Linked DNA regions of Homo sapiens: regions 1 and 2 are each reported to be linked to region 3. Evidence: microRNA targets listed by miRTarBase, many of them from high-throughput screens and not tested one by one. Region 3 holds a microRNA gene; each other region holds the end of a gene's coding sequence.
Evidence for each region. Region 3 holds the annotated microRNA hsa-miR-4652-5p (AGGGGACUGGUUAAUAGAACUA, at 5,749-5,770, opposite strand). A microRNA usually pairs through its seed, bases 2 to 8, with sites in the 3' UTR of a target mRNA and lowers its output. Matches are read on the target gene's strand: a 7mer-m8 pairs with bases 2 to 8, a 7mer-A1 pairs with bases 2 to 7 and ends in A, and an 8mer does both.

Region 1 (10,132 bases), not on the chromosome of region 3:
CTTGAACAATATAATTTTTGATGACATAGTTTTTGTATAGTGTAACTTTGTATTTGGCCATTCTTTATTAGACATTGTTTCCAAATACAAGAAATCTTTAAGATGATTTGCCACACAGATACAATCACTACAGTGGTGATTCTCAGTCTCTACTTGCACTCCATTCGCAATCCAGTGCTCTGTTAAATGAGACAGAGACAGAGAGAGAGAGAGAGAGAGTGAGAGGTTGAGAGAGAGAGAATGGAGGAAGGCTAGGCAAGGAGAGGCCTGAATCCTAATCATCACTCCACACTTTTCCACACCCTTGAGTTTTATTTGCACTTTTGCTTGCTCTTGGGGTGAATTAGCTCACACTTAAGGCTGTCACTGCTCCTCTTGCCTCACACCCTTTTACTTCCTTCATTTGAGTGTTCCAGGTGAGTTCACTGGGCCAGAACCTCCTACAATCTGCTCAAGACCTAGAGGTTTGAATGGGGAATGTGAGCGCTGATAGAGACAGGGAGCCAGGTCGTGGGTTGGGGAGGGCAAGGATGCTTCCTGCCCTCCTCCTTCATCACTAGTGGCTACTCTAGGGCCTGCCTGTGTGTGCCAGGGCTGAGCTAGGGCCTGGCCCCCTGGAGTTCTACAGAGTCCCTCTGGTACCTGAGCCACAAGAGAGGCACCTGTTCAGGAAATCTCATCAGAATCTAAACTTTAAGAGGAATCTCAGAACTTATCCATTTCAACATTCACCCAATGCTTATATTTCTCTTTTTCACCTTCATTCCACAAGAGAGAAATTTGTGACATGTCTCAGTCTAGCCTTAATGTGATAAGATTCATATAAATAGATATGAGAATATAGAAAACATTTATTTGGACTAGACTTCAGACTAAATTTCTGCCATAACATTCACCAAACTAAGGGATTGCTTATGTACAGTTCTGACCCTGAGGCTGACAACCAGATATTCTTCCCGTTGAAACAGAAAAACTCATACTATTCCACTCAGCCTAGAAATTTCCTAGTTATGTACCAGTAGATATTATACCAACCAGATTGCCAACTGTATTTGAAAGTCAATCAGAAAGCTTCTCCTTCCAAAATTCTCACCCTAATAGAACACTCACCAGCCAAATCCTGCATGAGCCGTCTTCCTTTCACTCTATAAACCTCACTCGCCTATCACGCCCCTTGAGTGGCTACCAGAAGGAAAGTGATCATAGCTAACTCACTCTAGTCAGATCTGAAAAAACAGGTTTCAGATAATTCTATAGACATTGTCTTTTTGACAAAACAAAAATGTATTCTTATGGATTGGTGATATAAATGAGCACTGCCCTGTGGGCTACCTCTGACATGAACAAAGGTCGGCAGACATGTGCTCCTGGACCGCTCCCGTATCGAGCATCCTCACCCACCCAAATTGGCCTGTCCTTAGAATGGCTGGCCTTACGGGTTGTGCCTCTGTAGTGAGTGAGGGGAACCCTTTTCAGTTTGTGCTCCCCACTCCTCTATTCTAGCTCCCTGAAGCCTGCATCCTATGAAGATGTATTCTCTTGGTTCCAAGACAGTTCTTCATACAGCCGATAATCATGGAAGAAAGTCCACATTCCTTTAAGAAGAGATGTGGACCCGGGGAATAAATGGTAAGGAGTTGTTTGAAATGCTTGTTCCCAGGTGCTGTAAAGAAATAGTACTTGAACATAAATTTAATTTATTTAGTAAGGCCATTTTTACTTCCTGCAGAAAGAGTACACTCACCAGAAGTTTTGCCCTTGGTGAGAAATGTATCCAGCCTATACCGGCTTATCCTCATTCCAAAACACTAAAGCAACTAACAGGGTTCCTTGGCATAACAGGCTTCTGCCGAATATGGATTCCCAGGTACGGCGAAATAGCCAGGTCATTATATACACTAATTAAGAAAACTCAGAAAGCCAATACCCATTTAGTAAGATGGACACCTGAAGCAGAAGTGGTTTTCCAGGCCCTAAAGGCCCTAACCAAGCCCCAGTGTTAAGCTTGCCAACAGGGCAAGACTTTTCCTTATATGCAACAGAAAAAAACAGGAATAGCTCTAGGAGTCCTTACACAGGTCCGAGGGACCAGCTTGCAACCCATGGCATACTTGAGTAAGGAAACTGATGCAGTGACAACGGGTTGGCCTCATTTTTTACTGGTAGTGGCAGCAGTAGCAGTCTTAGTATCTGAAGCAGTTAAAATGATACAGGGAAGAGATCTCACTGTGTGGAGACTTGTGGCTGTCAGACAACCATTTGCTTAAACATCAGGCTCTATTACTTGAGGGACCAGTGCTGCGACTGCACACTTGTGCAACTCTTAATCCAGCCACATTTCTTCCAGGCAATGAAGAAAAAAATAGAACATAACTGTCAACAAGTAATTGCTCAAACCTTCACCACTCGAGGGGACCTTCTAGAGATTCCCTTGACTGATCCTGGCCTCAACTTGTATACTGATGGAAGTTCCTTTGTAGAAAAAGGACTTCGAAAAGCGGGGTATGCAGTGGTCAGTGATAATGGAATACTTGAAAGTAATCCCCTCACTCCAGGAACTAGCGCTCAGCTGGCAGAACTAATAGCCCTCACTTGGGCACCAGAATTAGAAGAAGGAAAAAGGGTAAAAAGGAAAAAGGGTAAATATATATACAGACTCTAAGTATGCTTACCTAGTCCTCCATGCCCACACAGCAATATGGAGAGAAAGGGAATTCCTAACTTCCGAGGGAACACCTATCAAACATCAGGAAGCCATTAGGAGATTATTATTAGCTGTACAGAAACCTAAAGAGGTGGCAGTCTTACACTGTCGGGGTCATCGGAAGGGAACTGCCAAGTGGATATTGAAGCCAAAAGAGCCACAAGGTGGGACCCTCCATTAGAAATGCTTGTAGAAGGACCCCTAGTGTGGGGTAATCCCCTCTGTACTCAGCAGGAGAAATAGAATGGGGAACCTCACGGGGACATAGTTTCCTCCCCTCAGGATGGCTAGCCACCAAAGAAGGGAAAATACTTTTGCCTGCAGCTAACCAATGGAAATTACTTAAAACCCTTCACCAAACCTTTCACTTAGCCATTGATAGCACCCATCAGATGGCCAAATCATTATTTATGGGACCAGGCCTTTTCAAAACTATCAAGCAGATAGTCAGGGCCTGTGAAGTGTGCCAAAGAAATAATCTCCTGCACTGCAGGCCATACATTTCAATCCCTGTATCTTTAACCTCCTTGTTAAGTTTGTCTCTTCCAGAATCGAAGCTGTAAAACTACAAATCGTTCTTCAAATGGAGCCCCAGAAGCAGTCCATGACTAAGATCTACCGTGGACCCCTGGACCGGCCTGCTAGCCCATGCTCTGATGTTAATGACATCGAAGGCACGCCTCCCGAGGAAATCTCAATTGCACGACCCCTACTACGTCCCAATTCAGCAGGAAGCAGTTAGAGCGGTCTTTGGCCAACCTCCCCAACAGCACTTGGGTTTTCCTGTTGAGAGGTGGTACTAAGAGATAGGACTAGCTGGATTTCCTAGGCTGACTAAGAATCCCTAAGCCTAGCTGGGAAGGTGACTGCATCCACCTTTAAGCACGGGGCTTGCAACTTAGCTCACACCAGACCAGTCAGGTAGTAAAGAGAGCTCACTAAAATGCTAATTAGGCTAAAACAGGAGGTAAAGAAATAGCCAATCATCTATCACGTGAGAGCACAGGGGAAGGGACAATGATTGGGACATAAACCCAGGCATTCGAGCCGGCAACGGCAACCCCCTTTGGGTCCCCTCCCATTTTATGGAAGCTCTGTTTTCACTCTATTAAATCTTGCAACTGAAAAAAAAAAAAAGATGGGCTAGAGGCAGGAACCAAGTTCTTTGAATGCTGTGAGGAGAAACATTCCACCCAGACTGAGGCGTGGTGGGAGCAGGGGCAAAGGAGATGAAGCAGGAGCTGAAAAGCTCTAAAATCTGAGTTTTAGAGGAGATGCTGAATTCAGCAAGGTGTAGAAAGTTGGGTAGGATATTTGAGTATGTTTTACCAGATCCTCATGACCTTATTGTAGCTATTACAGGGCAGAAATTTGTCTTAAACCTAGCAGAGAACCACTACGTAGAATAATTTGCTATTCCATAAATATTCCTTTCTGTTGACTCCCAAATTTTTTTTTATTTTTTTATTTTTATTTTTATTTTTTGAGACAGAGTCTTGCTCTGTCACTTAGGCTGGAGTGCAGTAGCATGATCATGGCTCACTGCAGCCTTGACTTCCTGGACTTAAGTGATCCTCCCACCCTAGCCTCCTGAGTAGCTGGAACTACAGGCACATGCCACCACACCTAGATAACTTCTTAATTTTGTTTTTTTAGAGATGCGGTTTCACTTTGTTGCCCAGGCTGGTCTTAAACTCCTGGGCTTAAGTGATCTTCACACCTCAGCCTCCCAAAGTGCTAGGATTACAGGCATGAGACATTGCACCCGGCCAACTCCAAATTTTTAGACAGAGCTCTATTCCTTTAACCAATTGCATATTAAAGAGTCTCTGAATCCACCTATAAACTAAGCTTCTGTTTCAAGTTATCCCACCTTTTTGGGGCAAACCACTGCATACCTTCCATGCATTGATTTATGCCTTTCCCTATAACTCCTGCTTCCCTAAAATATCTAAAAGCAAACTGTAATTCCGACTGCTGGGGCACACTTTCTCAGGACCTCTTGAGACTGTGTTCCCCAGGTCATTGACACTTGTATTGGCTCAGAATAAACCTCTTTAAAATATTTTACAGGCTACTCTCTGCCTAGGGGGTAGCACTGCTCTACAGGAGCAGTCATGGTGCTGTAACACTGCCTCTTCAGTAAAGCTGTTTTCTTCCACCTCTGGCTTGCTCTTGAATTCTTTCCTGGGCAAAGCCAAAAACCTACATGGGCTAAGCTCCACGTTGGGGCTCCCCTGACCTGCATCAGTTTCTCTAATCTCTTACTGCTCAGGAGTCAAGTGGCCAGAGGTCACAAAATTTGTGACTTCCCCAGTTGCTCCTATAGATAACATCACTATTGTAGAACCTAAGATTGGTCAGGTAGTGAAGAGCTGACCCCATCTGGACTTGTGACTCATGACTTAATTGGTCCTGTGGCCCTCCTCCAGAGGGGGACTCAGTGCATGAGGATTGTTTTCTACACACCTATGATTGCATTCCCAACCAATCAGCAGCATCCATTCCCTTGCCCCTGCCCACCAAACTATCATTGAAAAACCCTAACCTCTGAGCCCTCAGGAAGACTGATTTGAGTGATAACTCCAGTCCTTCTGCTTGGCTGCTTTGCATTAATTAAACTCTTTACTGCGAAAAATTTTATATATATAAAATATTAAATATTATATATAAATATATAATAATAGTAAATATTATATATAAATATATAATATTAATAGTAAATATTATATATAAATATATGATATTAATAGTAAATATTATATATAAATATATGATATTTATAGTAAATATTATATATAAATATATGATATTTATAGTAAATATTATATATAAATATATAATATTAATAGTAAATATTATAAAATATGTATTATACATTACAGAGTCTGGCTTTTCAGTTAACATAATCAAGAAACTGAAAAAAGACTATCTCTGCTGAAAAATAAACAAACCAAAAACCATGGCAAAGAAACTTTCACAACAATGCCTACCCCTGCTACCCCAGACAAATTGATAACACACAAAGAGCTTCCAAAATAACTTTTATTACTATATAAAAGAAGTCAAGAAAAAATAGATGCATATTTTTCCTACAAAATTATAAAATATTCAGGATAGTTAATATTTTTTCCATAAATGCGCTAAGATAAAAAGATAGAAATCTTTTTCACTTAAGGTTTTCGAGTACCTTGTAGGAATTAAAGAACAATAATGTTCTTTCTTCTACATTTTCCTAAAGACATAGCAGTTACAGTTTCCTGCTGGAGTTATCTAAAAAAGGACATACCAAGATAAATTTTCTATCATATTGAAATAAAATTAGCATAAAGCTTTACTTCTGTCTTTGTGCTTTTAGATTGGCAACTGTGGTCAATCAGTGCTGCACTGGAATTTCCAACTCAGCAGGGGAAAGAATCTAATTAAAAATGACACACACTCTGTATTTTGTCCTTTAGAAAACAGAAACTGCTTGTCGATATCCCTTAAAAAGTGCAATTGCCTTCTTTGTCATTTCTTTGTAAAGTCTGAGATGTTGTTTCTAAACAGCACAGCTTACATGAAACCACGCAAGTAAAGGAAAGAAAGTGCTTTAGAGGGCAGGTTCCATTTGACACAAGCAGCACAGGAAGCCGTACACTTTTGATGACAGTAATTCAAAAAGTATATTCATTTGAGTTTCTCAATAAACGCTTTGAGAGAAAAGGCTTTAATGTTGATTCAGATGAGTGTTAAAATAAAGCTTTCTTTTCTGAAATTAGATTATGGGGTAAACCAAGCCAGATTATCTCTGGAGATGACAGAAGCCATAATTATTTTGGGAAATTTCAATCACTGTTTTGGAATTGATACCTAAGGCTTTCTTCTCCCCTATTATTTATGGGCTTTTTAATGAGATATTTTTCTCGGGAGATGCTTAGGTAGGAAATATCAGCTTTTGAAAGATAAAGGTACAATTATCATTAGAATCAAAAGCCCATTAAATAAGAGTCTCAAACAAAGGTTTTCTAGATATATTTTATATACGTTGTTTTCATAAAGATAGAAAAGAAATTCCTATAATATCTGTAAGATTATCCTCACATTAGCCCACATGAAAGATAAAATAAAGGGCTGAGATGGGGGGTGCTTAAATACTTTGCAACAGTGCTATTCTAGTGCCAAAGCCATAATTAACTTTTCACTGATAACCTGTTTCTTAGCCTATACAAAAAGGAATGGCCACCTCAATTCTGGCGGCTTAGTCACTATCTAATCCCTTCCTCCAAAAACCCTGGAATTTTGTGTTCCTCTATGTAATGGAACATCCAACTTATCAAATGATGTGTGACTATGCAACTACTCCTTCTATGGCACCAAGACTGTACCATGCTCCACCCATACTGAATTTAATTGTGCTACCACTTTGTGCCAGGCAGAGGGCTGGGTACTGGGGATCCTTCTGGCTCTATTACCAATTTTGGAAATAGAATTTAGTAGAGAAGAAGAGAACAGTGTTGCAGCAAGGGGATCTTGAATGGTTTTTCATGAAGTTTAAGGGATATGATGGAGTGTGGCTTGTATTCAGTCTTTGGAAGTAAGTACCAGTTACCTAAAAAGAAATCCACTAAGCACCAAAATGTTTAGTGTATTTGGTGTAGAGTTTCTACCCATATTAAAATGCTTCAGTTTAAAATTGAAGGGAAGGCAAAAAAATCAACCAAAAAATGAAAAGTATCATTTCAGCATAAGCACTACTCTAGGTTTTAATTTGTCAGCCCAGATCCCAGACAGAGATGATACTCCAAACATGAAAAGTCACCTCCAAGTCTCAATTCACTACTGAGAACCCAAAGCTCAAAATATCCCCTAAAATTCCATAAAAATCAGGAAAGACCCTAGCTATTGCCCCAGGGAAGGGCAGACCATGAGACAGGTCTCTTTTAGCTCCAAACTGAAAGTTGTTCAGCAGCTAAAATCCTGAAGAAAAAAATATTGCAATTAATTAACTTGAAAGCTACAGATATGCCTGTCCAAATCTTTTGTTACCAAGACACAATTTTAAGATCAAACAAGTGTCAAGGTAGGCCATGGCTTGTTGGCAGTAGTAGGGGCCCTATGGCCTATTTCCAGGTATGGGTGGCCCCTTTTCCTTGGTTATCTGGGGAATCTGCCACAGCAAACAGCAAAAGGTAAAAAGCATCCCTTTAATAACTACACCCCACTCCAGCAATTGAGGTTTATTCAGGGGTGGGTCAAAGTAGTACAAGACAAAAATAGCTTAGTGAAATGGTTAGAATCCAGACTGAGGTGCCAGACTGCCTGCATCTGAGTCTCAGTCCCACCATGTATGAGCCGTGTGACCTTGGGGTGAGTTACTAGCCTCCCCAGGCTTCAAATCTCTCACCTGTAAAATGGGAACAGTAACAATACCTACTTCATCCCGTCTGTCTGGGGACTGAATGAGCTAATATGTGTAAAGTGCTTAGAGGAGTGTTTGGAGCATAGTAAGTGCTGTGTGAGTACTTTCAAAAATAAAAACAAGAACTTGGGGAAAAGTGCTCTCTGAGGTTTGTAGGGCAGTGTATGCTACTTAAGTGTTGAAGCATATTTTCATTCTAAGAAGTTTAGCATCTGGATCATAAAGTACATCAACCCTAGGGAAGTCTTGGGGCTAACTTCAGTTTTGGAAATTCTTCCAAGTCTGACCAGAGAAGATCTCTTCAACCACCTGCTCTAATCTATCAATACCCTAACATAAACCCTAGTCTCCAGGGACAATTTGAGCCCAAACCAGCTGGGGAGGGAGCAGAAGGCAGGCATGGGGAGAAAGGAACCAGGTGCTTTCCTAAATTTCTTTAATATACTCTCATCATGGTATCTGTGTAGAGTCATGATCTAAACCCTGTCCCAGATATTCCTTATCGGATTTTAAACTTTTAGGACTGCTTCCCGCTAGTTGTGAAATCATTGTCTCCCAGAATTAACAGGAAATGACTGCATGACAACAGGCCAGGGATGCTGCCAGTTTATCCAATTAACTACTAGTAGACACATATTCACATATTGAGTATCTATTCTGCACAAGGCACCGTGCTAATGTTGTGGTCCTCAACAAGATAAAGGTAACATAACCACAATTTATATCTGCTATTATTTATATTAATCACATCCTTTCCAATTCAGGTCAGTTCATAGGCCTCAATCAATACAAATTATTTCAAGAAACCATCCTTTGTGATTAAAGTAAATATTGATACTACATAGCCCAATTATCATATGGCTAATAGGAGAAGCAAAACTGTAGAGCTAGTTTTGAAACGTGACGTTATATGGCTCTATCTCTACAACATTTTACATGGTAGATCTCTGCCCAGCCTCATCCAGAGCTAAGTTTCTTTTCCTTGCTGCTACTTCACTGTTTAACTCTGAATCTGATTTGTCCATGTTGTTGCCAGAGTAGGCTGGCATGGAACCTCTTGCTCCCTGTTCAGTGCCTCCATTTGGATGAAGAATGGTAGAATTTGGCTCCTTAGGACGTTTCCATTGCGGTCTGGTGACTATCCAAAAAATGAGGGCCCCGAACACCAGGATCAGAAGGCCAAGCGTATTTACGAAAACACCTTCTGGCGGGAATGTACTGTATGCAGGATCTCTCCTATGAAATAAGAGATGTATCCAATTACAAACAGGATGATACAGCAACATGCAAAACAGTCTTGAATTTATCTGCTCAAAATGCACACTAGTACAGTTTCAATGTAAACTCTCAAAGCTTGCTATTAAGGAGAAATATAAATTATGCTACAATTCACTCGGGAATATATAATGAAATTGATTTAAAAATAATAAATATGAAAATAATATAGCATCTGTAACACTTGTTTTAAGGCAGGTAGGGTCTGGAGGCAGGCAACCTCAGGTCAATTCACACGGACTTCCTAGAACTAAACCAAAAGGAAAACCCCAACTTTCCACATCTAAGTAGCAAAAGGACCCGAGGCTACTCCCTTTGCAAACCCCGCTTTTCTGCATGGCGGATGGAAAATTGAAAGTATCTCTGATTGGTTGCTTTCTACAACCAATCAAACTGACTGCAGGCCACCACTTCATTTACATGCAGTGAACACCAACTGGCCAATGGGAAACCTCTAGGGGCTATTTGGACCCAAGAAGATTCCCTATCGGGCCGTTGAGTGGCTGCTCAGGCCACTCCCGCCCTGTGGAGTGTACTTTCATTTTCAGTAACTCTCTGCTTTTGTTGCTTCATTCTTTACTTGCTTTGTTTGTGTGTTTTGTCCACTTCTTTGTTCAAAACGCCAAGAACCTGGACACCCTCCACCAGTAACAGTTATCACTTAAAATTTTTAAAAAGGATGAAACAAAAATGTATGTACACTATAATTACAATTAATATAAAAACATGCATATCAACAAGATTGAAAGGGA
Region 2 (11,187 bases), not on the chromosome of region 3:
GCAGTGGTTACAAAGTTTTAGGTAGTGGAACCCTTGATTCAAATGAACCCCAATAATTAAAAGTAAATATTTTATGTGTATAGATTTATTCCTGAATCTAAATTTATAAAACTCAGTGAAAATATTAAAGTTATTTGATGAACATAAAAATGGAGACTGGGGGTAAGGCTGACGATTTGTTAAAGTAGTCTTAATGCCCATGTGACTCACATACTGTTCTGCTTGCACGGTTTAAAGAACATTCTGGGTTTGGGTTTTTTTTGTTTTTTGTTTTTTTTTTTTTGAGACATAGTCTCTCTCTGTCGCCCAGGCTGGAGCGCAATGGTGCAATCCGTGCTCACTGCAACCTCCGCCTTCCAGGTTCAAGCAATTCTCCTGCCTCAGCCTCCTGAGTAGCTGGGATTACAGGCGCACACCACCATGCATGGCTAATTTTTGTATTTTTAGTAGAGACGGGGTTTCACCATGTTGGCCAGGCTGGTTTCGAACTCCTGACCTCAAGTGATCCACCCACCTCAGCCTCCCAACGTGCTGGGATTACAGGCATGCCACAGCATCCGGCCTTAAAGAACATTCTGATTCACAGATAAGACGTAGACACATGTTTCCTATCACATCATGCAATACTTGGATACCACTTTGTTAAAGAACTATGTCACCAGTTTTATTGTGGGGTCCTTGCAAACACAAGTTTGCTTGGCAGAAAAATGGAGACACTGATCATTTGTTGTAATTGGGTATTAAACATCAGTTTGCATTTTTAAATTTACATTAACATTTTTAAAAATAAATGTTGCATCAAGTATTTATAGAATGAGGCTTCTGGGACTGGAGAACTAGCTCATTTCAGACCAAATCACTACAGATAACAATTATGAACTGGACAAAATACACCTCACAGCCATCGAAGGCATTGCACAGAAATCAAAACCAGAAACACATGAGAGGGGAGCTGACGCTTGGCAGAAGAAAAAGGCTTTGCATTTCTGATTATTAAAGGCATTTTGGTGAGGGCAGGCCCTGTTCTGCCAAGCAGGCAGCTAAGCCTGAACAGAAAATCTGCAGTCTTGGCTGGCTGACTTAACCCACCATCTTATTGGCTTAAAAAAATGAGAGGGCTGAGTTCAGAGCGATCAAAGAAGATTGAAAGTGAAGTGTTCCTACAAACAAGAGCCAGAGGGGGATCCAAAAATTCTGTGTAAAACTGCCTGAGTCTCTGTTTGATTCTGTAACCAAGCGTGAGCCAAATAAACTCCAAACAGCCTGGCTAAGGTTAAAAGAACTTAAGAAATTTCTGCTATTGTCTATTGTGTGTGTGCTGGGTGATGGGGGCAGGGAGGAATTGAGAGTTTAATTCTAGCCATGTTAACTGTCTTCTTTAAAAAAAAAAAAAATCAGTACTTTTTGGAGGAACATAACAGAATCGAGAGTCTCTAAAATGTATCATTCACCGAGTTTACAATACAATCCAAAACTATTAGGCATGCACTCAAGAGTGAAAACACTCAATAGCGACTGATCCTGAAAAAAAAAAAATCCAGATGTTGGAATTAGCAAAGATTTTTAAAGAGCCAGTATAACTATGCTCAAAGATGTAAAGGAAAATAAGCTTATAATAAATGAACAACAAAAAAGAACCATTAGGACATTCTAGAGTGAAAAAATCCAATGTCTGAAATAAAAAATTTACTAGATGGGCTTAAGAGCAAATTATATAACAGATGACAGAATAGAGTCAGTGAACCTACTCTAAGTGTATTTTACATTATAAATATTAAACTCTAATGATATGTATGCTGAAGAATTCGGGGTGAAGAATACACATTACTTTGAAATGCATAAAAGATAAGAATTGATGAACAGATGGAGAGGGGTATATGAGTGTTTACTGAACAACTTTATTGTAGATTTTAATTTTTTTCATAATGAAACAGAGGGTGAGGGATATTTACCTAACTCTGAAAGGTGGAACAGGAGGACCTTGAACTCTTGAAAATTCAAGAGTCAAGAGACCAAGCTTTGAGCCCCCATCAATGGAAGCAATGGCCTTTTCCCCATCTTTAAAGGTAGGAGCTAGACTAGCAGAGCACTAAGATGCCTTCTAAATACATATAAATAAAACGGACCTAAGATCCTTTCTAAGATTAGTGCCATCTAAGGCATGAGGCTATCAAGATCAATTAAAAAACCAATAGGCTGTAAATATGAATATTTTGATAGGTGTGCAGCTATGGCAGACATGTCATCATGGTGGGGTTTGTTGGTTCAGAAAGCTCCCTAAATCCCGAATGCTGGGCATGGGAGGTTTCCAGCATCTTTGTATCCCATCTCATGACACTTCTTCCTCTCAGTGCTTCCATTCCACAATACTTTAGTTCCATTCTCACCCCATATTGTCTTTCCCATCTTAGGGAATGCACAGGCTGTTCTCTCTACTGAAAAACTCCTTTCCCTTCCCTGAGCTAACTTCTGTTCATTCTCAAATCTCAGCTTCTCTTGGCCCACTGAGATTGGGCACTTCTCATTCTGCCCCAAACTTCAGCACATGTCAAATGATCTAAATTACTTATTCGACAATATTTAATGTCCTTTTTTCTCATTAGATGAGCAGCCCCATGAGGGCAGGGCCCAGCCTGCCACTCTTTTTCAGCCAGTGGCTTGTAGACGAAAGAGGTGGGTCACAACCACTGGGTGTCTGCTTAGCACCAGGCACTCTTCCAAGTGTTTTACACATATCCATGTATTTAAAAATCTTATTAGGCTCACAAACAGTTGTTGAAGAAGCCTCCCCTTTTTCCCTATGAACAACAATCCCTAAATAACTATTTGAAACCTAGAAAGTGCCAGGCACTGTGCTCAACACACAGGATACAGCAGAACAGGCCCCTTCCTGCCTCCCAGAGCTCAGTCTGGTGGGGAATACACACCATAAAGAGGGAGCCACACATCAGATGACAAGTACTAAGGAGGAAATGCAAGGTCAAGGTATTTGGTAGAATTTGCCATGTTTAAAAAAGTTGCTCACACTTTACTTTTTGCTAAAGAAAACCACTCAGGAATCCATCCACTCATCTAATCATGCAAAAAGCAGCTGCTCATTGTCTAGGAGACTGGGTGCTGTGCCAAGGCTCTCAGGATGCAAAGATGACTTACATCTACAAGGAGCACACAGTCCAGTGAAAGGCTACACACAGAACCAGCCATCATACCACATGATGCGTGCCATGGTAGAGGTACACACCGTGTGCATCAGGAACTTGAAAGCAGCTTCTACAGGAAGCCTGACCTCCAGTCTGGCTGTCTCTGAAGTATGTGGCCACACTTACCCACCCAATCTCGACTCTCATTACCCCAACATGTGATTCTGCCCCAGAACTGAGTTTTCTATCGACCAAGGTCCCTGAGAGAGTAACTTAGCTTCACTCTAGTTTTCCCACATATGAAACAGAATGTTAAGGATTATTGTAAGGATTAAATGAAAACATCTCATAAGCAATACATACATACTACAGCGTGTTATTCACTTTTACCGTTGAGAGTAAATGTGGTTAAGACCCTCTTGCCCCAGGCTCTATCCTCTCAACAGGTGGCTGCCCTACTCCCAGCATGGCCTTTTCTTTCTAACCAGACTAGTGCTGCCCCGAGTCATTCAGGAATTCAATCTGAACTCTTGGTGACACAAAAATTATGTAGAAATTTAAATGGAAACCAAAGTAGTGTCTTCTGTTGTCTAATAAGGAAAATGCTAAACAAAAGCAAAAACAAAAAACCACTTAACACCAAGTTCTCTTCCAAAAAAGCCAAACATACAACACTGTTATTAATAAGCAAAACCTCTTAGGGTTAAAAGTGTAATTTTATTTAGATGTTACTTGTACATAATCTATAGTAAGATATACAAACAGATAAAAATTGTTTAACAGTTTTTTTTAATACCACTTTAAATTCAATTTACAACAGCATTGGTAATACTGCAAGATGACAGATACTATGATTTATAAAACAAAAATTACTTGCTACTCTGGCTGATACATTCCCACTAGTCTTTAATGGATTAATATGTATCATGTATTTTAATTGCAAATTATTATAAAACTTTTACAACCTAGCCACTTGGAGCTCAGAAAACATTTTGATGTTCTAAAAACTTACTGAGATGAAAATGTTAATTTTTGAATAGTATCCTTAGTAAAGAAAAACATCAGTGTAGCCAAGCTTACGGTCTGGGGCTGACAGTGCAAACTCACTTGCCTTGTGCTCCGCCGCCTCCTGTGTGCGCAGCCATCGGGGACTGGGCAATCTTCCCATCCCTTCCCTAGGTCTACGCTATGAGAGAAAAGCTTAGGAGACATTAAACTAAAACAGACGTGGAGAAATAATACGAGGGACAATTTAAAATTACCTTACAATTTATAACTATAATTTAAAACACAAAGTTTGGAGAAATGAAATGTGCTTTTGGATGTTTCTTCTCCATTTGTTTTGGTAAATAGTTTTTGAAAATGAAACTGAAAATTCAAATCTTCTCTTTATTCTTTTCATTGTAATACCATATTAGAAAAGATCTGGATTTAAATTTCAGAATAAATTGAATTTGCTGGAAAAATACTCTAAAAATAATCTAAATTGGATTTCAGTCATTTTCCATTCTTTTAAATGTTATGGTACACAACAGGGCAAAAGCTTTTTCGCAAGTCATAAAATTGAGTTGAAAATAACTTGTTGATTCAGCTACAGGAAGACAACTAACAATTAACAGGCTCATGAATATTTATGAATAAAGTGCCACTAATTTTATTGTAATAAGATATAAATAGAATAAATCCTGACATGGATAGTAGCTTCTGTGTTCTCTCCATCCTGAGAACAGAAGGGCCATAAAAAAACAAAGAAGCATTACCAAAGGGGAGTTCTAGACCCACACGGGGAACTCCTAATACAAAAGCAACAAGAAAGACAAGTAAGACTTTAAAAGTTGCAGAAGTCCTAAGAATAGCGCCAATGTAGTAGGCCCTTTTTAACAACAACAAAAAAAAAAAAAAGAGAGAGAGAGAGAAATTAGAAATTTAGAAGTTCATTAATAACTGTTACTTATATTCAAGGAATTTATAGTGACAGCCTAGTGGTGACCAGCTCTAGGAAAAGACGCTGAAGAGGACGCTCCCAGCACCTGGGACAGAGGAGAGAACAGACACACCAGGGAAGCAGCCTTGGAAAGGGGATGCAGACATGAGGCTTTTCAGGGCTTCAGATCTACATGACTGCACCCAATGGACAGGCTCTGTACAATCACTGCCCACAAGCCCAACAGGTAGCCACTCGAGACACACACACTGAGGGGACTTCGGGGCTGGCTGACTTGCTCAGATGCATTTTAACAAAAACCCCCATCACCATCCTGCTCACATTCCTACCGTCACCTCAAACATCTCTGCTTTTAGCTCCAGATTCTTCTCAACATAACTGAGTAACTAACCACAATGGATATGAAATACTGTTGAGTAGGTTAAAGTCCTTAATAAGTCAAGCGTCTTAGCATATTTTTGAAGTCGTATCTATAATCAAAGCCTGGAGCACCTGTTTGTTCAACACAGTTATCTTTCATCCAGAATTACAAAATATAGAAGCTGTCATTCTTGAGTTTCCCCATGGGTCCCTGGTATTGCCCACGTGGGAACAACAGGAAGGGTGGAGGTGAGGGCACAGCACTGTACTACAGCTGCAGGGCTGATCAAGGGAATCTCATGAGGTGCTTTTTATCATTTAATGTGCCAACAACAGGAGGACAACCATGTGCTTCTAGAACAGGGTGAAGGCCCTCCTCACGGGAGTGATCCCTAATCTGGCCCCAGCACCGTGAAAGGTGAATAGCTGTCAATATCTACTTTCACCTAAACCTAAGCTTTTAAAATTCTGACCAAGTGGTGAAAGGTGCCATCTAAAGTGCTCTCTGTTGCTCGCTGAGGAGCTAAGAACTCCTGCGGCTCACTCAGGACACAGGTGTCAGGAAACTAAAGGAGCAGGGCTCCTTTGCAGCCCAGGCCCTGTGCCGCAGCTCTGCCCAGCTCAGCGGTGTAGCTCCCAGAGTCATGGACTGCTCGCATCTGTTCTGGCCGGCTGGTGCCCACACTGGAGAGACTGGCAAGTATCTTGAGTGTCATCCCCAATGGCCCCAGGAAGGAAAATGGACTCTGTTCTTCACTTTCATTACTGTTGAGCTGCTGAATTCTCTTGCAAAAACCATCAACAGGCATTTACTAAGCAAATGCCCACAGGGAACCCAGCCTGAAAAGGGCCCTTCCAATTTCATATTTGACAGGCATGTGCAGAGGTAATGAAATTATTCAGCAGAGCATCAGATTCACTCAGAGGCTACCAAGCCAAGAAACTGAAAGCAGAAACACTGGATTCTCCCTGTTTGTTGAACCTTTCCCTCTAAAACCAACTTATTCAGAAACACATCCTTTAAAAAAACAAAAGGAAAAACCAAAGCGGTGAAACAATATCACTTACTGGTTGGAAGACATCACTCTGACATAGTCATTAGTCTTGCAGAGACCTAACACCAGGCAGCTTCACAAACACACAGCAAGTCTGCAGAGTTATATTGATCAGTAAGAGTAAACCCAAACTGCACTAAATACTCTCATGGCCAAGAGGAAAGCAGATGCTGTTTTCAGGACAATGTGATAGTGACAGCCTATTTCCTCATGTGCAGCACAATTTGCTATGTTTAGTGGCACTTAAGTATTACACAGTAAATACTGAAAAGACCCAGAATTTTTGGATGTGCAGAAGCAATATCACATTGTTTATACAAAAGGTGCTATGCTACGGGATTAGAATACCACTATTTGGGTGTAGAGACCACTTAAAATCTTCAACACGCTCCCACACGCGGCCTCTCCGCCGGCCTTTGCTCAGTCGGACCAGTCGTTCTCGTCGAACTCTGAGTCGTCGTCAGAGTCGCTGTACTCCACGGCAATGCGCCGGGACAGGATCGTGGCCACGTCATTCCCCACTGGCTCCCGCTTGGCCTCCTGCTCCCGCTGCTCCTGCACCTTTTTCAGTTGAATTCCTGCAGACACAACACGTGGTTCAGAATCACATCCTTTTGCTGGCTCCAAATTAAAGATAAACGAACAAATATGTCTATTGGACTTTTTTTTCTACTGACACTAAGGACAGAAAGTTTTAGAAATTTGAGGGGAGAAAAGCTCAGGGAATATTAAAAGTTTCATGAGAAAAAACATGCATTCAAAGTGAGAAGTTTTTTTGTAACAAAGTAATGTGTTAAAATATTAAAAATTCCTAATTTCAGTGTACCTGAACACCATTAGAGAAAACTGTGGAGCTGCACCATCCCAGACAGCAGCCACTAGGCACATATAGCCTTAAAAGCATGAACTGACATGTGGCTAGTGGCTACTCTCTGGGACGCTGCAGGCTGGAGCATTTCTATCACCACAGGACATCTACTAGGCAGCAACAGCATCCAGAGCCTTGGAAACAGTGTTCTATGCTACTCACTCTCAGCTAACCCAAGAAGTAACTGAGAAACCTTTATTTCAACAATTACTGTGGAAACAAACATAAAATACAATCATCTACTTTCTAGCTTAGTAACAAAGTAAGATATTTGATGATTTAATGTTTATCCATTTTTTTTTTTTTTTTTGAGATTGGGTCTCACTCTGTGACCCAGGCTGGAGTGCAGTGTTACGATCATGGCTCACTGCAGCCTCGACCTCCTGGGCTCAAGCAATCCTCCCACCTCAGCCTCCTGAGTAGCTGGAACCACCGGCGCACGCCACCATGCACGGTTAAATTTTGTATTTTCTTTTTTGTAGAGATAGAGTCTTGCAATGTTGCCCAAGATGGTATCCATTCATTTTTTAACTGTTTTGAAATAATTTCAGATTTACAGAACAGCTATGAGACCAGCAGAAAAACATTCCCATATACTTGGATTCCCCAACTGCTAACATCTGACCACATTTATTTCCCAATCTTCCCCTATCATCTTTACACAGACAGACACAGACACTTTTCTCTGGACCATTTGAGAGTGAATGGCATATAATGTCCCTTTACCCCTAAAATAGTTCATGTGTTACCGCCCCCGCCTCGCCCACCCAAAATATCAAAATCACAAAATTAGTTTGGATACACTACTACTATCTATCCTACAAATATTATTCAAATTTTGCAAAAAGACCCAATCTAATTGCAAATGGAAAAGATTATCCCCTGGTTCAGAATCCAGTGGAAATTATCCGTGACATTGGTTGTCAATTTTGTTAATGTCCTTTAATCTGGATAGTTCTTCACAGTCTTTGTGTTTTACAACCTTCTCGTTTTTGAAGAATATAGGAAGCTATTTTGCAGAATGTCTGTCGATTTGGGTGTATCAGATGTTTCCTCGAGATTAGATACAGATTATGTATCTACTCTTGGTAGACAGGGCTTATAAGGTGTTAAAAAAAAAAAAGGCAAATCCAACACCGTCCTACAATGACCCCGAACTTGATATTCATGAGCTAATATACCTCTAGGACTTTTTTATCTTGACAAAATAAAAGTGTGTCAATGATGTCCAGGTACACAGAGGACCCTGGGGTCTTTAGAAGGGTGCGTGGGCCACACTGTGGGCCTGGTTCATGGGCACACAAGAAAAACGCAGAGGCAGCAGCATCACAGCTCCTCTGAAGGACATCCCTGATGCTGAGCTGGCGGGCTGCAGCCAGGCTCCTTGCTTGGTCACTTCCAGATGAGATGACTAAACTGTGACCAAGTCTGTGCAGCTCCCCACAGGCGAGAAGCTCTTGGATATTCCCATAACATGTCAGGGACCCTCGACCAACCTGGGTTGGGACCTGGTTAAGAATCCATGGTGTGGGCTGGAGGTTCCCAGGGGCTCTCTGGGCAGCCCAAGACAGGCGAGGGCAGACTCCCCACCCAATTCCACCTGAGATGCTCTGTTTCCATGTGTTTTGTGGTCAGGGGGTCAACGCGGGACTTTCATCTGACAAAAGGGTTATGCTGTTGAATATTATAGATTCTGAAAAACCACTGGCTTAGGACATCAAGCAAATATGACAAGTCCAGCACAAACTCTTTTTTTTTTTTAAAGAAATCATTAATATGAGCTCACTTTCTTTCATTTATACTTTTCCCCTTAGAGCAGAATGCAGAGAAGAGATCCAATTAATTAATCGATCACTTCAGTTATTGGGTTTCTGGTTTCAAGGTAAGTAAAAACTTCCTAATTTCAATTCTTTTTTTTTTTTTGAGACGGGTCTCGCTCTGTCGCCTAGGCTGGAGTGCAGGGGCGTGACCACGGCTCACTGCAGCCTTGACCTCCCACACTCAAGCAATCCTCCCACCTCAGCCTCCTGAGTAGCTGGGACTACAGGCTCAGGCCAACATGCTCAGCTAATTTTTTTTTGCATTTTTTGTAGGGATAGAGTTTTGCCATGTTGCCCAGGCTGCTCTCAAACTCCTGGGCTCAAGCAATCCAACTGCCTTGGCCTCCCAAAGTGCTGGGATTACAGGCATGAGCCCACCGCGCCCGGCTGTTTCCCAATCTTTATCACAATTTGATTACCTTACACTGGACAAAAACACAACTACTATTCAAAACAAAACAAAAAAATCAAGTAAGACCCCTTTAACTCTATTTTAAAAAACGTAGTGAGTAGTCATTTGAAGACAAGGAGGCTGTAGCTGGCTGGAGACATGAAGAAACCTCTTGCTGAAAGGCAGGCTGTGTGTCTGGGGGCTCCACTTACCCATTCGAATAGCAGCGAGGAGGTCGCTTCGAGCATCACTGATTGGTGGCTGTGCAGGCTCTTGCCGCTTCGCCTCAGCTACTGGGGGGCCATGCATTGGGGAGGACGAAAGAGAAGACCCGGGACCAGGAGGGCCTGGCGGGGGAGGTGGTGGGCCCGGGGGTGGCGGGGCTGTGACCAGGAGCCCGGTGGAGGGTGGGTGAGGAGGAGCTGCGTGCGTGGAGCTGGCTGATGCAGGGAACGGGGGCTGCATGGGCATCTGGAGAGGGCTGACGAAGGCAGTTTGTGCTGAGGGAATCACAGGAGGAGGTGGCGGAGGAGGTGGTCCGGATGGGTTGTAATACTCAATTATCTGCGCTGGGAGCATCCTGAGAGAGATATGAGGCACATAGTCACCAAGGGAACAAGAGAGGGTCACGTCCTGGGAGCTCTTAGACACCTAACGGAGCCATCCCCAGACACAACACGTATTGTCACCTGAACTTCAATCATGGCAGGATGCAAACATGCACACCTTGGGTCAGTTATTTTCACAGTTTGACATTATTCATTATGACAGAAGTCAAGATCTGCTACTGAAATGTGCCAAAAGGAGGACCACTCAAAAAGTGCAGCACTTCCTGAAGAAAGGCAGAATAAAGCAGCTGACTGCAGAGGCCAGGACGGCAGCGCCAGTGAAGGCTTCACACTGGGATCTCAAGGCGGTAGCTCACAAACTTGTCTTTTAAGGGTCCTAAGGTCAACCAGATTGGGAGCTTTCTACATTCTCTAACCCACCTCCGTGGAAATGCCCCATGCCTGCAGTGCCCAGGTGTGTATCAAAAGCTTCGAAAAGTCACACAGCCAAGAAATCTGCTGAATTCTATTCAGCCGAGGGTCTTCCAAACTAACTGGACCATGGGCCCTCTCTTGGCCTGACACAGCCTCAAGCCACTCTGGGGATCCTGACTTGGCATGCATGGCCAGGGAGAGCACTTCTGAGAGCAGGATTGTCATTCAGACAGGGGTGTGCAGACACGTGTTAGCAGTGGACACCAACACACGGTAATTTTCCTGGGCACCAACTCTGAGGAATGAAGTCTTTAAAGACTAGAGTAAAGCCAAAAAAAAGAGAGGTGGGTGCCTAAATTGATAAACGCCTGAACATGAAGTCTCTGAATTCTACTTCTCAGGGAACAGGAGGGCCTGGGGCAGAATGATGTCTGGGTGGTCAGAGGTCACGAAAGCAGATTTTGGTCAAGTCTGAGAAATGAGGCACAGGAGCTGCATGGTGTGGTCTTCTCGTCTGTGATAACAATTTTCTGTGGTCCACTCAGGATGTGTCCAGAAACTTGAGGGTTTGGGACAGGTTCACAAAATCAGCACTTAATACCCTTTATCAATGCCTTGGCTTAAA
Region 3 (11,187 bases):
TTAAATTTATTTTGATTACATACTTAAATTAATGACTTTAAAAATTAGCCTACCATGGTGGCACACACCTGTAGTTGCAGCTGAGGCAGAGGGATCACTTGAGCCCAGGAATTCAAGGCTCCAGTGCACTATAATCACAACCTTAAATAGCCACGGCATTCCAACCTAGGCAACATAGCAAGACCCTCTCTCTATTTCTCTTAAAAAAAAAAAAGCTTGCTTGTTTAGTATTTCAAATTATAGAAAGACACCTAGCATAATGAATAGGAAGGTTGTCTGAATATAAAGCAAACAAATACCTTGAATAAATATGTCTGGATTGAAATTGCATTGAATATATGTATCAGTCTGAGAATTGCCACGTTTTAGATGTTGTGTTTCCCTTCCACAAATATAATATATATTTCTTTTTAATCATGTCTTCTTTTATCTTCTTCAACAAAAAGTTTTATAATTTCTTATATAACCAAATTGTAGTTTTTATTAGGTTTATTTCTGGTAATGCTAGTAATTTTTGTTGCTAGTATGACTGAGATCATTTTTCTTTTCTTTTTTTAAATAATTTCAACTTTTCTTTTAGATTCACGGGGTACATGTACAGGTTTGTTACCTGGGTATATTGTGTGATGCTGACGTTTGGGGTATGATTGATCCTATCACCCAGGTAATGAGCATAGTATTCAATAGGTTTTTAACCCTTGTTCATAACATCTCCCCAACCACCCACAGTCCAGTCCCTTATAACCACAATTCTACTTTCTACTTCTGAGTAGATAGGGGAAATAAGTTCAAGAGATTTATTGTATAATTTGATGATTATAGTTAATCACAATGTATTATATTCTTGAAAATTAGTAGCAGAGTAGATTTTAGGTGTTCTCACCCCCCAAAAAATAAGTATGTGAGGTAATGCATGTGTTAATTATAATTAGCACTATTTAGCCATTCCACAATGTATACATACTTCCAAACATATTGTGCATAAGTATATACAATTTTTTCAATTAAAATTAATTAAGTATATAAAATTCATGACATTAAAAACGATAAAGAAAATCAATGAAACCAAAAGCTGGTTACTTTTTAAAAACTGATGTATTTCTAGCTAGGGTAATTAAGGGTGAAAAAAGGGAGACAAAGAAAAAAGTTAACAATATAAATAATAATGGATGCAGACATTAAAATGATAGTAAGAATATTAAGAACAACGCCATAACTATAAATTCAAAATTGAAAACTGCATACTACCAAAATTCACTCATGGAGAAATAGATAACCCAATTAAATTATTAGTTAATAACTTAAAAAAAAAAGCACCAGGCCCAGGTGGTTTCACTGGTAGATTCTTCCAGACATTAAAGGACAACATAATACCAATTCTACACAACCTCTTTCAAAAATACAAAAAAAAAAAAAGAATCTTTGCCACTCAATTTTATTAGGTCAGAGTTATCCTAATATCAAAACCAGACTAAAACATTACAACAAAAGAAAACTAAAGACCAATATCACTCATGAACATAGAAGCAAAGATCCTTAACAAAATATTTGAAATAAAATCCTGTAATATACAAACAGGATAATACCTCACAGCAAAATGGGGTTCATCCTAGGAATACAAGGCTAGTTCAACATTTATAAATAGATCAATGTAATTTATCATCTCAATGGACTGAAAAATAAACACTATATTATTATATCAATAAACAAAAGAAATTATTCGATAAGCTTCAAAACTCATTCATGATTAAAAAAAACTTGGAGTGAAGTGCAATTTTACCTTACCTACATACCTAACAAAGAGTATATATGGAAAACCAATAGCTACTATCATACTTAAGGCCAAGAGACTGAATGCTTTATCTTTAAAATCAGACCACAAGGCATGAATGTCCTTTCTCACTGCTCATATTCAGCATTATAGTGGAAGTCCCACCTAGCTCAATAATGTAAAAATAATATTAGTTATACATATTGCAAACAGATAAACTCTAATTGTTGGCAGATGACATGATAATCTATGTTGGTTTCACTAAAAAGCAGAGACTGGGTTATTCGTTCAAATTTCATAAACAAATAGTATTACGTTACAGTCTTTGTGTTTCTGAATAAACCAGAAGTCAGACATATGCTACTGGTAAAAGAAAGATGTTTGCTTAGGGTGAAAAGAGCGTGTTTACAAAGAATGTCTGAAAGGAAAAACTCAAATCCTCACTTCCCAGAATGAATACCAAGGTCTGTGGCCTTTAAAAAGGTGTTAAACTTCTTTGCACTCTGGGTTTCTCTCCAGAAATATTCTGTAGCCCTTTTGATTTATGCATTGTTTAGAGCAATAATATTGTCTGCAATATGCTTGGTGAGAAACAGCTGCTTCTCCAGTAGATGACATTATCCTCAGCTGTTGAATGAACATTCATTCCTAGAACACAAATAAGAATACCTAAGAATAGCTACATCCACACAACTGGCAATAAAAATGAAGGAAAGTAGTGATCATCTTTTTCAACAAGGTAATCTTTTTTGATGGAAAATTCCAGAAAAGCCATTCCACATGCAAAACCCCAAAACCTTAGCAGAGAAAGGTCCTTTCCAACACCTCACAAGATTGCTTTCCAAAACGTCTTTAATCAAAGCCAAGTGCTAAAGTTACACAAACACAGAGAAACACACTGGGCTGAGTTACACCTACAGTTTCTGCTTCCCTATAGAACTGGAAGTTCTTTCCCTGCTTACAGTTTCTAGCTTCTCAAATGAAATAGCACAACGCTTGGAGCCTGATTATTTTAGGAAAGGTCAAGTGAGCCCAAATGCTAATAGAATTTCATGAAACCAAAGAGATGGCAGCTTCCCAATTCTAGGTGCTAAGCTAAACACACTGGGGTTAAAACATAACCACATCCTTGCTAAGGAGAAAATGGTCAGAGTGGTCAGGCTTACTGTGTAAGCTGGTCATGTGATGCCCACACAGTTTTATGGTCTTCTTATCATTGTTACTGGTCTGCAGTTGGAGATGAGTCAGTGGATAGGAGTGGGAAAAGACTTGTCTCTCTCACACATAGAACCCTGAGGAAGGAGTAATCAGATTCATGTAAAAAATGAAGAGAGGAAAAGGAGAAGGAGTGTGCACTGTTAATTTTGGAACCCCAATTGGGATAACTCATCAATGCTCATCATCCACTAGCACGAAGCCTCATGGCTTTAACCATCATATATCCATGTGGTAGTTCCTTTGCCTGCCAGGATACGTACTCCAACCCCACACTCTATTACTTTCTCCCCATATCTAGTCATCCTTATTGCCTCACTCCTCTTAACTCTTCCATTCACCAAAATTTCCCCCACCTCCTCTCCTTTTCTAAGCTAGACTTGCTTCCTAGCCTCATTTTTAGAATTCTCCTTTCTCAAACGCCTGTTGCTGAGAAGGGAGAAGATAATCTTTAGTTTTGGAGGAAGGAGAGGTGGAAAAAGTCACTGAAATGTTGCAGTCTCCTGGTGGCAGATTATTATTTTCTTTCTTTCCTTCTGATAGTTACTTAAATTTTTTTTTAAATGTGTATTTTTAAGTCCTTTATTATGCTCGAAGAGTTTTTAAATTTTGTTATGTTTTTGTTCTAGTGAGGAAATATATTATATTGTAAAGTTAATTTTAATTATATTATCCCAATTTAGGAAATAATTTGTGAGTTTGTTTTCCTTGCTTGCTTGCTTACGGTAATTTGTGGGAAATATGTCATTCTATCACATCGATTAATTAAATATCCCTGTACATTTGTACATAGTAAAAAAAATTACTGAATAAAGCAAATATTGAAATGTCACACCCATTGGAAACATAGCACTACTATGTCATAATGATAAATCTTTTCCATACCTTCACTGGATGATTCAATTCGATTATTTAAGACAATAATTCAACATCAGAAAATTAAAGAAAGAACCAAAGTGATGACAGTAAATGCTTGGTAATGATTAGTGACTCCTTGCCAGCACACAGATTTCATCACCCGCGTAATTCTTATTTAGCATGGACCCTCTTCCAAGTTATTAGGATTCCTCAGTGATATTCAAATTGAGTAACAAAAGAAATTGGCTCAGTTTATCCTCTGTTTTTATCACTGCAAGCCTAGACATAGTGATTAATCCAGAAATAGCAATTATTTCCTATTTTCCCTAAAAATAACACTTAGAAGCTGGGCAACTCAGCTCTGAGACTCAGATTGTGCAGTTTGACATCTGATGATTATAATGTCTGCTGACCTCAAACTGTATTGTATGAATTACATAATAACCATGCATACAAAAGAAAGCAGAAATCATGAGGAATATTATAGTATAAAATCATTAATGTTATTTTCTTAATTTCTGCAGAAGTATCTATGAACCTTAACTCTGCTTATAATATTTTTGCCATAAAGTAGAATTTCTTTTCATTCCATACAATACCTCAATCTTTTCCTTTATAGCTTTCTTGTTATCACTCATAGGAAGTTATTTTGCTGAAAAACTATGTAACATTCATGAATAATTTATCTTAATTTTTTTCAGTCTCTAATATTTAATTCAGCTATAATTTTGTTATAAGGTATGTAACTTAGTTATCAAAAATATTTTTCCCTGGCAAATAATTCCTCAGTTGTCTTTTGAAATGGCAACGCCAAAATTGCTATCACCATTTTACAGATGAGTGACAGTTACTCACAGGGCTAAAGTGATAGACAGTGGTGTGGGCACCAGCTCAAACCTGCTCTCAAGAGGCAATTGCAGGTAGCATTTCTGAACTCCATATTCAACAAATTGGATATGATGGAAATACACCATGAAAATCAGCAAATACTACAAGCTTTCAACTTTCCTCCCTCCCTTCCTCCCTCTCTCCATCTTTCCCTCACTCCCTTCCTCTCTCTCCCTCTCTCTCTATTCCCCCCTCCCTTCCTCCCTCCCTCCTTCCCTTCTTTTCCTTCCTTCCATCCTTCCTTCCTCCTTTTCTTTCTCTTTCTTTCTCTCTCTCCCCATTTCTCCCCATTTCTTCCTTCTTTTTCTTTCTCTTTCTTTTGGTTCCCTCCCTCCCTTTCTTTGTTCCTTCCTTCTTTCATTCCTCTCTCTCCTCATTCCCTTCCTCCCTTATTCCCTGTTCTCCTCCTCTCCTTCCCTCCTTTTCCTAGGTTTAAGGGCTTTGCAAGTTCTCTTTAGTGCACCTGGGTTGACCTGATTTTGTTGTTCTCTACTATGTGGTTTGGGATGTGGTTTCAAAACTCATACCACCGCAACTTATTCATTCATAAAGATCTCTATTTCATTTGAGTAATCATTATGACTTATTGTAGCACTGGAGGACTGAGGAGTGCTTTGGGGCCAGAGGTTGGGTAATACTTAAGAGGAGGTGTTGTCAGCTGTTTGTTAGAAGAGAGACTTGCTGTCTGAAACTCAGTGAGTTGTTGCCTACAGGTCAGTAGCAAGGCCAGGAACATGACCTTGGATTTAAGATTTTCTGTCTTTTCAATGGAAACAATATGCTGACCATTTCTTTCACTTCGTAATCCTTCATCACATAGTCTCCCTTCAGAAGGTCTTCTCAACCACCACTGACATTGATTGCAAAGATTTTTAAAATTCTCATCACTTTTTCTCTCTGGTCTGACACTAGGGGACTGCTTGTTTGGCCTTACTCAGCCTAGTTGAGCTTATATTGAGGTTTATACTCTATTAGATGAGGGGATGGGTTAACAGAACAAAATAGTTCTGGTTAGTTAGTTCTATTAACCAGTCCCCTCGTCCAATAGAGTCAAACGATTCTGAATCACTGTTGGCCATTATCACTCTCATCACTACTCCAGTCTGACCAACTTTTGCATAGTTATATATATAGTATGTAACTTAGTTATCTAAAGTATTATATATATAATATTATATATATGCATATATAGATAGATAGATAGAGAGAGAGAGAGAGAGTCTTTCTCAGTTGTCCAGGAGTACAGTGGTGTGATCATGGCTCACTGAGGCTTGGATGTCCAGGCTCAAGCGATCCTCCCACCTCAGCCTCCTTCCTGGGTAGCTGGGATTACAGATGTGTGCCATCACACCTAGCTAATTTTTAGTAAAGACAGTCTATGTTGCCCAGGTTGGTCATCAAGTTCTGAGCTCAAGGGATATTCCCACCTTGATCTCCCAAATGCTATGATTACAACAGGCCTGAGCCACTGCACCTGGCCGCAAAGCAATCTGTAATTGTTACAGCTTACCCTGTGAGGTGTAAAGTTGAATTGGAGGTGGGGAAGAAGCATCTCTGACAATACCCCACAGCTTTGTGTAATCCCACAGCTTCTTGCACAAGAGCTTGCATATAGCTGGAGTTCAAGAAATATTTGTGGATTGGATGGATGTACAAATGAATGACAGTAAAGAGGCTACATCTGACAAGGGAGGAGGAAGCTGGGCAATGAGGATCCAGGGGACACCAGTAGGGAGGTACGGATAAATCTTTGAGATGGGAGAAAGGAGAGGCTGAAAGCGATAAGGATATAGGAAGCCCGATGCAGGCAGAGGACAGAATCCAAAGAGTTGCACACAATGCAGGTGTGTAAATGTGGACATTTAACAGGGATGGCATATTTAAAGTGGTATATTTTGAGATTTTCACTTGTTTTCTTTTCACTACCAACAAAGCTGAGTGTAATGATTAATTCTTGAAGATGTCTAAGCCAGGAAAGGGAAAAGAAAGTATTCATAACTGTCAAACAATGAATAATGGACATTTATTTGACAGTTCTTGAACATTAAAATTGAGCTAAGTTCTACATTATAATATGAAGTAGTTATAATAGGCATATAATATGTTTCCAAACATTATATGCCATTACTATGATGTGAAAATAATACCAAAGATCAGTACTTTCAACACCTGAATCACTTTGTGGTTGCAGTGCGGCAATTCTATGTACTGATTGTCTCTGAGTTTTTAACAGTGTAAGATGGTATAAAAGTCATCCATGATATCTGTAGTATTATCCAACTGTGTGTCTCACCAGCTGTGTAACTTCAGGTTAGTCCTCACTACCTCTCTGGGTTTAAATTTCCTAATCTTAAAATGAGGTCCAAGCTGGAAAATCCATCAAGTTCCTTTCTGGTCTAGCATTCATTGATTCTAGGATGTAAGATTATGCCGCGTAAATATGGACAAGACTTTCTTTTTCATTCCCCTCTTTCCATGAAGACAGGCTCCTTCTCTCTTCATAAACCATGGACTTATCCTAGGTCAAGGCTTCCTGGTCCACAGGAGACCCCTGGCGGCCACCCTGGCGAATTCTCTTGATAGATGTTACCTCCCGCAGTTCCGAAATCTTTAGAGGGTTTTTGATGCCCTAGAAAGCTTCCTATCTTTGAACTCTTAACACCTACAATTGGGTTGATACTACTTTGAGTAATCTTTTTTCACATATGCACAAACCTTTCCTTTTCTCTTACAACCCTTACCCCAAGAAAATATTTTTTCTTTTCCCTTTACTCTTTAATTTCCCTTCCTGTTTTATTTCTGAAATAAAATTGGGTGATTCTTCTTTCATTATTTAAATGATTTCATTTCTAAAAAATGTAATAACTTCTTTTCTGATTACGCAAGGAGAAGCATGCTTGTTGTGGAAAATTTGATAAGTAATAAGAAAATAAATTAGACACAATACAGGCATACCTCAGAGGTATTAGTGGGTTGGTTCCAGACAAATGCAACAAAGTGAATATTGCAATAAAGCAAGTCTCATGAGGTTTTTGGTTTCCAAAGTGCATAAAAAGGTTATATTTACACTATACTTTAGTCTATTAAGTGTGAAATAGCATTATGTCTAAAAAATATATACTTTAATTTAAAAATACTTTGCTGCTAAAAAAATGCTGATGATCATCTAAGCCTTCTGTGACTCATAATCTTTTGGCTGGTGGAGGGTCTTGCCTCAATGTTGATGGCTGCGGACTGATCAGGCTGGTGATTGCTGAAGGTTCTGATGGCTATGGAAATTTCTTAAAATAAGACAGCAATGAAGTTTGCTACATCAACTGATGCATCCTTTCATGAAAGATTTCTTTATGGCATGTGATATTGTTTGATAGCATTTTACCCACAGTAGAACTTCTTTCAAACTGGAGTCAAACTTCTCAAACCCTGCTGCTGCTTTATCAACTAAGTTTGCATAATATTTTAAATCATTTGTTTTCATTTCAACAATGTTCAGTATCTTTCACCAGAAGTAGATCCCATCTCAAAAAAATACTTTCTTTGCTCATCCATATGAAGCAATTCATCATTCACTGAAGTTTTATCATGAAATTGTAGCAATTTAGATACATCTTCAGACTCCACTTCTAATTCTAGTTCTCTTGCTGTTTCCACCATATCTTCAGTGATTCCTCCATTGAACCCTTGAGCCTCTCAAAGTTATATAAGAGGGTTGAAATCTTCTCCTAAATTCCTGTTAACTTTGATATTTCAGCTTCTTCTCATGAATTATGAATGTTCTTAATGGCATTAGAATGGTGATACTTTCTTGAAGAGTTTCAATTTACTTTGCCCAGGTCCATTGGTGGAATCACTGTCTATGGCAGCTACAGCCTTACACAATGTATTACTTAATTAATAAGAATTGAAAGTAAAAAATACTTCTTGATTCATAGGCTGTAAAACAGACGTTGTGTTAGCAGGCATGAAAACAACAATAATCTCCTTGTACACTGCTATCAGAGTTCTTGGTTGACTGGGGACATTTGTAAATGAGCAATAATATTTTGAGAAGATTCCTTTTGAAAGGAATCTTTTTTTCTGAGCAGTAAGTGTCAACAGTGGGATAAAAATATTCAGTAAATCAGGCTATAAATAGATGTGCTGCCATCCGGGCTTTGTTGTTCCATTTATAGAGCACAGGCAGAGTAGATTTAGTGCAATTCTTAAGAGCCTAGGATTTTTAGAATGATCAATGAGCATGGGCTTCAACGAAAAGTTGCCAGTTGCATTAGCCTCTAACAAGGTAATCAGCTTGTTCTTTAGAACTTTGAAGGCAGGCATTGACTACTCCTTTTTAACTATGAAACTCCTAGTTGGCATCTTCTTCCAATACTATATAAAGCTGTTTCGTATACATTGAATATCTATTGTTTAGTGTAGCCACATTTATCCATGATCTTCGCAAGATTTTCCAGATAACTTGTTACAGCTTCTACATCAGCACTTGCTGCTTTAGCTGGCACTCTTATGGTATGGATACTTTTTATTTACCCTTTAACATGATAAACCAATATCTGCTAGCTTCAAAATTCTCTTCTACAGCTTCCCCACTCTCAGCCTTCAGGGAATTGAGGAGACTTAGGACTTTGCTCTGGATTAGACTTTGGCTTAAGAAAATGTTGTTGCTGGTTTAATTTATCCAGACCACTTAAGCTTTCTCCATATCTGCAATAAGCCTGTTTCATTTCATTATTCATGTGTTCACTGGAGTAGCACTTTTATTTTCCTTCAAGAACTTTTCCTTTGGATTCACAACTTGGCTAACTGTTTGATACAAGAAGTCCTTCAGCCTATCTCAGCTTTTGATATGCCTTTTTCACTAAGCTCCATCATTTCTAGCTTTTTTATTTAAAGTGAGAGATGTGTCATTCTTCCTTTCACTTGAACACTTAGAGGCCATTGTAGAGTTACTAATCGGCTTAATTTCAATATTGTTTCTCAGGGAATAAGGAGGCCTGGGAAGAAGGAGAGAGATGGAGGAATGGCTGCTCAGTGGAACAGTCAGAACACACACAACATTTATAGATTGTGTGCCATCATTATGGACACAATTTGTGCTGTCCCAAAACAATTACAAGAGTAACATCAAAGATCATTAATCTTGGATCATCATAGCAGATATAATAATAATAATAAAGTTTGAAATGTGTGAGAATTAACAAATGTGACACAGACACAAAGTGAGCACATGCTGTTGAAAAAACAGCACCTATAGGCATGCTTGACACAGTGTTACCACAGACCTTCAATTTGTGAAAAATGCAATATCTGCAAAGTACAATAAAGCAAAGGACAATGAAAAAAGGTATGCTTGCATTTTTCTCTAGATCTATCCACTGGAAATATTTCAGGATATTTTCTTCTAGATTTCTTTTAAAATATGTATAAATAACTTTCAATACACAATTAGAATTATGCTACTTTTTTTGTTCTTTTTAACCAGAAAATTTTCACCTAACACTTTACACTTTAAATTCTAAGTATTTTCTAATGTTAGCATTGCTTTAAGTCTTTATCTAATATCTCAAGTCTAATAAAAATAATAACACTTATCTAGCAATTACTATGTACCTAGCACTATTCTAAGCACTTCACATCGGTTATCCCATTAAATCCTCAAAATCCAGGTGACGTGGACACTGTGTTTTTCCATATTTAAAATCTTAGAAATGGAAGGAGAGAGCTGTTAACTAACTTGTTCAGGATAACACCACTAGCAAATTCTAAAGTTGGGATTTGAGTCCAGAGGACCAGCTTCAGAGTTTGTGCAACGAATTATTACATAAGCCCCGCTTTGTTTATGTTTCCCATGGTTTCTACGTCAGAAATTTCCTCTCATAAAGATAAATTCAACACATAGCTTGTAGATTTGTACGCTATTCTTTAAAAATTAATCCCTTAATGCATCTGGAATTTATTTTGTTGTAAGGCATGAGATTAAGTATTTCCTTCAAACCATTTGGTAACTAATTTATTCATTCCACATTAAGTTGTTGCCATAAGTCAACATGTGTCTGTTTATTAATTTCCCTGCCCAGAATTGTGTAAAGCTCATATTCTTTTAAAACTTTTAATTCTACAAATGTTTAAATCTATTGTCGAGGAAGTTGACTAATCATTCTTCATTTTTAACATTTTCTTAGGTCTTTTCATCACTTTATTCTACAAAATAGATTTGGAATTATGTTGTCTACATCCAAAATAGGTCTTTGATTATAATTTCATTAAAACTATAAATTACTTGGGAAGAATTAATACCTTTAGGCTATTCAGTGTTTTTACTAAAGAAGATGCCATAATTTATTTATTTACATCTCTAATTTTTCCAATAGGACTTTAGTAGATTTTATCAACTCACAAATTATAAAATCTTCAATATGTAGATGAAGAAAATAGGGTAAGAGGAGAAAATAAAA

Region 1: the mRNA of CYBRD1 is a reported target of hsa-miR-4652-5p. Seed matches in the 3' UTR shown: 8mer at 8,136-8,143.
Region 2: the mRNA of WASF3 is a reported target of hsa-miR-4652-5p. Seed matches in the 3' UTR shown: 7mer-m8 at 5,338-5,344 and 7mer-m8 at 4,287-4,293.

Annotation. Positions count from the first base shown.
Region 1 is chr2:171,553,733-171,563,864 of GRCh38, reverse strand. It overlaps CYBRD1 (cytochrome b reductase 1), which reads right to left. Exons shown (of 4, transcript NM_024843.4): 4 at 5,736-9,341. The coding sequence ends at 9,038. Among named protein-coding and RNA genes, the nearest start is that of CYBRD1, 36 kb to the right of the region's middle.
Region 2 is chr13:26,681,579-26,692,765 of GRCh38, reverse strand. It overlaps WASF3 (WASP family member 3), which reads right to left. Exons shown (of 10, transcript NM_006646.6): 9 at 9,792-10,159; 10 at 3,818-7,078. The coding sequence ends at 6,921. It overlaps LOC107984597 (a long non-coding RNA gene), which reads left to right. Exons shown (of 3, transcript XR_001749798.2): 2 at 9,183-9,250; 3 at 10,351-11,187. Among named protein-coding and RNA genes, the nearest start is that of GPR12, 74 kb to the left of the region's middle.
Region 3 is chr7:93,711,520-93,722,706 of GRCh38, reverse strand. It overlaps MIR4652 (microRNA 4652), which reads right to left and starts at 5,779; the gene lies at 5,702-5,779.